2 linked regions of the Homo sapiens genome follow. The protein of the gene in region 2 purifies or fractionates together with the protein of the main gene of each other region. This does not show direct contact. Each region holds a gene or a part of one and is shown on either strand. Other genes may lie near its edges.

The links.
Region 1: the proteins of FAM13A (region 2) and PPP2R5C purify together in Homo sapiens (affinity purification with mass spectrometry; one large-scale study listed by BioGRID and IntAct). This does not show direct contact.

The regions. Positions count from the first base shown.
Region 1 is NC_000014.9:101,904,482-101,908,298, reverse strand, and holds part of PPP2R5C (serine/threonine-protein phosphatase 2A 56 kDa regulatory subunit gamma isoform), read right to left. Parts: intron 1,898-3,817; coding exon 1,770-1,897; intron 1-1,769.
Region 2 is NC_000004.12:88,746,044-88,749,860, reverse strand, and holds part of FAM13A (protein FAM13A), read left to right. Parts: coding exon 1-90; intron 91-827; coding exon 828-909; intron 910-2,009; coding exon 2,010-2,230; intron 2,231-2,845; coding exon 2,846-2,929; intron 2,930-3,817.

The sequences.
Region 1 (3,817 bases), on a different chromosome or scaffold from region 2:
TTGCCATGAGGGTCTTGGCTGCTGCCTCCACTGCTATCAGCATGGCTGCTGGCCCTACAACCACTAAGTGACAGCAAATGCTTACTTGGTGCCTATCATAAGCCAGGTACTTTACGCATATTAACTTTATCTTAATCCTCACAACCAAGTGAAGATTGTTGCAAGGCAAAGCACTTTACTTTCTCAGTTTTTCCAAAGAGAAACTGTGGCTAAGAAAGACCTGGTGAGAGCTAACTTCCCCGGGTTCAGACAGCTGCTCAGGAGGAAGGCAGGAATGTGAACCAAAGTCATCCTCACTCTGATCTGCCTGCCCTTCTCTGTTGAATTTCTGGGCGGCAACCCTCAGAAGACTTGACGCGAGTGGACTGGCTGGACGCTCGCTCGGGGGTCTGGCTCAGAGCTCCAGGGCTAACACCTGTCTGGCTGCTGCCCTGCAGAATTCTGGGAAGGAGGCAGTGCCACCTGCAGCCTCGAGCGGACAAGGAGAGAGGGTGCATGGGAGAGGGCTGGTCCGCCGGCAGCAGGGTGACTGTGCAGCACAGCCAGAGGGGTGCCCAATAGACACTGCGAGTTAGGAGACCGCACCGGGCCAGAGTGCCGCTCACCAGCTTTGGGACCGCAGACTGGGCTGCGAATGCCCTCCAAGTCTCACCTTCCTCACCCATAAACTAAGGGAGGAGGGCTGGATAGCATAACCTGCTCTTCTTTAAGTTCTGAGTTATAATTACAATATACAATGGAAAGAGATGAAAGAAGGTGGGGAAAGAAAAACTCAGTCGTATTTCTTTAAATAGCAGGAATATTAGATGATACCATATTAATAAATAATATGGCCTGGGCGCAGTGGCTCACGTCGTCCCAGCACTTTGGGAGGCTGAGGCAGGTGGAATACTTGAGTCCAGGAGTTCGAGACCAGCCTGGGCAACATGGCAAAACCCCATCTCTACAAAAAATACAAAAATTAGCCAGGCGTAGCGGTGGGTGCCTGTAGTCCCAGCTACTCAGGACCCTGAGGCAGGAGGTTTGCTTGAGCCCAGGAGGTCGAGGCTGAAGTGAGCCATGATCGTGACACTACACTCCAGCCGGGGGGACATAGCAAGACCCTGTCTAAAAATAAACAAATAAAATACAAATTTTAAAAAAGAAAAATAAATAAATAATGTGGCACCCATATCAACAGTTTCCTTTTAAAGTCTCAGAAGACTATTGCTCAGTAAACGGATTTATTCATCCTCTTTAAGTCAAAAGATGAAGGAGCGGAGTAGGAGGAAATGTTTTTGGCTGCTGGGACTATGGGGCTGTGTTCAGATCACCTGGCTTCCCTCTTCTTCTCCAGGTAGTGACCACTGTGGGGTGGTTCTTGGGTCTCACACAGGGGCTCATCCAGGGTGCATGTCAGCAGAGCTCAATAGACACCCCGAGAATGCAGTGGCCACTGTGCCCCCGCCGGGGCTGAGCCCCACTGGGCTCTGCAGAGACCTTCAGCTTCTCTGCAGGACGCTCAGGAAGAGGCCTAGAAACTGCTGCTACTGGGAGGTGGCTGCAAACCAATGTGCCTCTATACTGGCAGGAATGAAGGTATAAGGTGGTAAATTCAACGGCCACAGAAACAACCCACGCTGCTACTTAATTTATGAGTCCACAAAGCAACTGACCTTCTTGTTTTTTAATTGATATTTAAAATTCTGATATTTATTCTTACTGAAGTAGCAGTAAAACGTGCCATATTTTAAAATGACTGAAAAAGATGGCAGCCAGTTCTTTCTTACTTGTTCCAATGGGTCTTTGAGTTGCGGTACAAGGAAGGAAACATGATGGGCAGAATCTTCGCTGCGTTGTCACTGATTAAACTCATGATGTATTCATTATTCCAGTAATAGAGAGCTCGCTCTGCCACCTGAAAGACACAAGTGGATGGCTTGCTGGAGGTTGTGCCTGAGACATCAGGTGGCTGTCCTTGCTGTTAAACCTGTGAGTCGGGTAATGAACTACCTTGGACCAGAAAATTATGATTATTTCTACAAATTCAAAATATTCTAGACTGTAACCTGTAACCCTGAAGAGCCTTCAACAAAGAGGCAGACAACTTCTTGTACATCAACTCATCAAGAACATTGTCACCTATTTCTCTACTTATTCCGTAAACATTTATGCTAGATGCTGGCTAGATGCTGAGGAGACAACTCAAAGGAGGCCATTCCACCTATCCACCCGCCTCCCCCATCTGTCAGGTCAAGAGGGCGTGCTGTGTTCTGCTGAGCATTCAGCACTGAACAAAGCAAGGCAGAAATCCTTGACTCCACGGAGCTTACATTCTAGTGGGGAGGAGACAGGTGATGGATGATTATTAATTTACTAGAAACGATAAGTCACATACAAAGGGCAGCAGGGCAGGAGAACAGGCAGCGGCGGTGCGTGTGCGGTGGGGTGGCTTCAATGGGGAGGAGGTGACATCTGAGCAAGGACCAGAGGGAGGAGAGGTCCTGAGTTGTCAGCACGGGGCTGGCTGAGGACCACTGCAGAGGGCAGTGGGGGCATGAACAGTAGGAGGGCAGGGGAACAGGGCCTGAGTGCACTGGCGCTTACTCACGGGAAGCCACTAGAGGGTGGTTCCCCCATTTTTCTTTTCTTTTTTTTTTTTGAGATGGATTTTTGCTCTTGTTGCCCAGGCTGGAGTGCAATGGCGTGATCTTGGCTGACTGCAACCTCTGCCTCCCGGGTTCAAGCGATTCTCCTGCCTCAGCCTCCTGAGGGGCTGGGATTACAGGCGCACGCCACCACACCCGGCTTTTTTGTATTTTTAGTGGAGACAGGGTTTTGCCATGTTGGTCAGGTTGGTCTCGAACTCCTGAGATCAGGTGATCCACCTGCCTTGGTCTTCCAAAGTGCTGGGATTACAGGCGTGAGCTACCACGCCTAGCCCATCCATTTTTGTTTTTTAAAAAGAGATGGAGTTTCACTCTGTTGCCCAGGCTGGAGTGCAGTGGTGCTATCTCGACTCACTACAACCTCTGCCTCCTGGGTTCAAGCGATTCTCCTACCTGAGCCTCCTGAGTGGCTGGGACTATAGGCATGCGCCATCGCACCTGGCTAATTTTTGTATTTTTAGTAGAGACGGGGTTTCACCATGTTGGCCAGGCTGCTCTCGAGCTTCTGACCTCAGGTGATCCACCCGCCTTGGCCTCCCAAAGTGCTGGGACTACAGGCGTGAGCCACTGCACTCAGCCCCCCATTTTTATTACTAAAACTTTCAAAAACAGACAAAGCTGCAAGACTAACATAATGAGTGCCCACCTCCCTCCACCCAGATTCAACACTGTTCATACCCTACCCTATTTGCTTTTTCTCTCCGTAGTAAACCAGCACACAAGTGCACGTTCCACAGAACTATCTGGGAGTTCGAGGCAGTCACCAGGACACTTGGCCTGTCCCCATCACAGCATGTATGCCTCTGGGAAGAGGAGCTTCACCTGTATAACTACTGTCAACACCCTTCATCTGCACACAACTCACAGCAGCACTTGGAGGCTCTGAGCAGCATGGGGCTGACGCTTCTCCTGCCAGAAGCCTACAGCTTAGAGATCCTGAGGTTGTGGTGCGGTGTGTATGGGTGGGATGCTGAGAGAATGGCAGGTGAGCCTGTGCCAGGCTCAGGAATCAGGGCTGATTCCTCAGAGGCAGTGAGCTGGGATGAACTTTGCAGAAAAGGAGTGAGTTAGGTAATGGGGGAGGGGAGGGCATGCATGAGAGTGCGGCGTGGATTCAAAACAAGGCACAATCGCATCACAGCTCCTAGGCTAGTTCTTACTTAAGAGTT
Region 2 (3,817 bases):
ACACCTGCCCAGCTCACACGAAGGATTCAGAGCCTTAAAAAGAAGATCCGGAAGTTTGAAGATAGATTCGAAGAAGAGAAGAAGTACAGAGTAAGTGTCCCCTCACACTGTTCTTTTCGCCTCATCCTCTCCCTGGACATGGCAGCATTTCAGCAACTCAAAGAAACGACGAAAGGTTAAGGGAGGCTTCTAGGGAATCTTACAACAAAAAGGCAGTAAACCCTGGATAGTACACCCTGATAAACCCCAGTCATTATGTATCAGCATTTTCCTTGCACAAGTGTATTCTTACAAAAAAAAAAATGAAAGCTTAAGTCTACATTTTATAAATTAATCAGTAAGCAGGAACTGGAGAAATTGTTGAATGAAATCCTTTGTTTGACTAAAATTTAATTCAATATTATCTTCTGAAATCTTGTTAGCACTGAGCTCGTTCTGCTGTCAGCTCTGTACCACAAGAGTGGCAAAAAGGCATTTTTGTGACGGTTGCTGAGCAAAACATCATATACCCCTCTGTTTTCTACACTGTTCGTCTTACAGGTTGAACCCTACAAATAATGGCAAGGGGGTCATGGACCTCACAGAAGTCACTGATCATAAAGATGCATTTTGCCTCTGAGGAATTTTTTGAAAGCATCACAATAACCAAATATAAAGAAGGATAATGGAATTACATTTGTGACATTTGCTCTGATTGGTCGTGTTTAATTTCTTATTCTGATGGGGCTCAACTTTTCCTTCCTATTTAAAACAAAAATGATCATCAAACACTTCTTACTTTCCCTGCTCCAGTTCCAAAGCATTTACTCTAGACTTCCTTTTCTCAGCCTTCCCACAGTGACAAAGCAGCCAATCCGGAGGTTCTGAAATGGACAAATGACCTTGCCAAATTCCGGAGACAACTTAAAGGTGGGTAAAATTCTGGAGCTGTGGCTTCTGTACAACAAGCCAGGTGCAGAATCTCTCACCTCCTCTCCCACTGAGTGCCACTGCTAAGGCATTCCCCGGTCCTTAAAGATGCTTCCCAGCACTCTCAGCTATTCAGAGTGACCACTTCCCCAGGTCTTCACATGGTCTCAGTCACAGGGCAACCCGATCAGCTAAGAGGCGAATTCTGCAGCATTTCTTCATTTCCCTGGATCACTAATAGAAGGATGATGGTTTCAAGTCAGCATCTCTCAACACCTGTTTAATCCAAGTCTCCATTTGCTGTGGTGGTAGAAGCAAACAAGTAGACACAGAGATGAATCTGCAAAGGGTATGGCCTCCATCCCTCAAAGAGATTCCCATCTTTTCAGAGACACAGTCATGTAAACAACTAAATAGAATACAAAGTGAACCTAATTTCAGAATAAGGTGTGTAAGTCATACAGAAAAGGTTGGCCAGTGGCTGGGCATTAGATCACTAAATACCTTTAACCACTGAAGGAGCAAGGATGCCACATTCTGAGAGCATCATACAGGCTGATGTGGCTAAAGCTTTCTCAGCAATTAGTGTTAGGGAAACATTCCATGTAATCAAAGAAAATGTTACCATTCTCTCAGGTTTTACATAATAATTCAGGGATTTCTACTGATACTGTAACTAGATACTCTCTGAAAAAAGAATAAGTTATTGATACTACAGAAAAACAATTTGTGTTGGGCAGACATCAAATCTCATATATCAGGCCGGGCGCAGTGGCTCACGCCTGTAATCCCAGCACTTTGGGAGGCCGAGGCAGGAGGATCATGAGGTCAGGAGATCGAGACCATCCTGGCTAACATGGTGAAACCCCGTCTCTACTAAAAATACCAAAAAAAATTAGCCGGGCGTGGTGGCGGGCACCTGTAGTCCCAGCTACTCAGGAGACTGAGGCAGGAGAATGGCGTGAACCCAGGAGGCGGAGCTTGCAGTGAGCCGAGATCGTGCCACTGCACTCCAACCTGGGCGACAGAGCGAGACTCCATCTCAAAATAAATAAATAAATAAATCTCATATATCTTTACCCCCAAATCTTCTCAACTAGAATCAAAACTAAAGATATCTGAAGAGGACCTAACTCCCAGGATGCGGCAGCGAAGCAACACACTCCCCAAGAGTTTTGGTTCCCAACTTGAGAAAGAAGATGAGAAGAAGCAAGAGCTGGTGGATAAAGCAATAAAGCCCAGTGTTGAAGCCACATTGGAATCTATTCAGAGGAAGCTCCAGGAGAAGCGAGCGGAAAGCAGCCGCCCTGAGGACATTAAGGTGCGATCATTCTGTGAAGTGCTAAGCCCTAAGCCATTGCAGTCAATGTGGTAGAGACACAGGGCATGCCACGTGAATCCCAGTGGGAAGATGATGCCTTGTTAAGCCTTCCAGGCTGTTACGTGTCTAGGGAAGCTGATGAAACAGCTGCAGAGTGCGTTAACTGTGGGTGCTTTGGTTTTTGACTACAGATTGAAAACAAAACTCTATTGTATAGATTACAGAATGAACTTGTTTAGGTTAATAGCTGGTTTTGTGACTCTGAGGTAGAAGGATTAGAGACAAACCTTTGGGACCATGTAACGTATAACCGTCGTCATTGCTTGGGCCATTAAGCTAAGCCCCATGTGCCTCACAGCCCTGCTTACCTCAGTGTTCACCTTACCTTTGCTGCCGTGAGGGAGATCCAGGTGGCTGATGATGATTCTGCTGTGCTGGCCACGTTTCTCCCAAGAGCTCAGGAGTAACCCATTTTTAAATGAACTTTGGATAGAGCTAGGGAGAGCTGTTATATGAGGGTTCTTTTTAGCCTTGCTTTAGTAATTTAAGTAAAGAAGTTGGAATGTTCACACACATTTTCCTCTCTTTCAATTCTCTATCCCTGTGTTTATACAGGATATGACCAAAGACCAGATTGCTAATGAGAAAGTGGCTCTGCAGAAAGCTCTGTTATATTATGAAAGCATTCATGGACGGCCGGTATGTGATGTAGTAAATTTTCTGATTGGGGTCAATTATCTGGCTTTAGAAATGGATTTTCTATGTTCAGTATTTTACAAATGGGGTTCCCTAATGTTTGCTTGCTTTACTTTTAGGATAAAGGAGGTTAGTATATATTTACACCATAACTAAGCTTTCTGAAGGCTTAACCAATAAGAAAGTTCTATCTAGTAGATGTGGAACTTACTTGGGTTCCAATGAAAAATTGGTTTGCAACTAAAATTTAGTCATTAATGTACCGCTTTAAAGGAAGGAATGGTGGAGGGGCCAGGGGTCGGAGGGGCAGAGTATAGGGCATAAAGACCCCTGGAGTTTGGAGACTTCCCTGTCCCTAGGTCTCCCCCAATAAGCTGTCACTGTAGGCTTCCTCATCCATAAAATGAAAGGTGTGAAACTAGAATGATCTGCCTTAGAATTCAATCTCTCTGCAATGCAGTGCAACTAGTGTTTGTAAAGAAGTTCCAGCTGCCGTTCAGAACCAGAAGCGTGAGGAATCCAAAATATGGCTTTGCCTTTTCATAACAACGGGAAGCATTTGAGGTGGCTTGCCGTTCAGCAAGCATTGCTTAAATGTTTGTTGTTAGCTGTGGGGGAAACGGTAGCATGATAGGCTTCTGCTCTCTTCCCTGAAGAACTTTTCATCAGACACCCTTCTTGTCAGTCACTCTTAATAACCTTTTGTTCATAATGTTGTCAGAGACCTAACAAAACAAATTTTTAAAAGCAGGTATAAGGAAGCACGAAGTTTAGGTTCACTGATTATTTTTATATAGCCAAAAAGTATAGATCTCTTTTTCAGTCTTGGCCATGACTATATGATAGTCTTTTCATCTAAAATATGCTCTTTTAAATAAAGAAGGTTCCAGA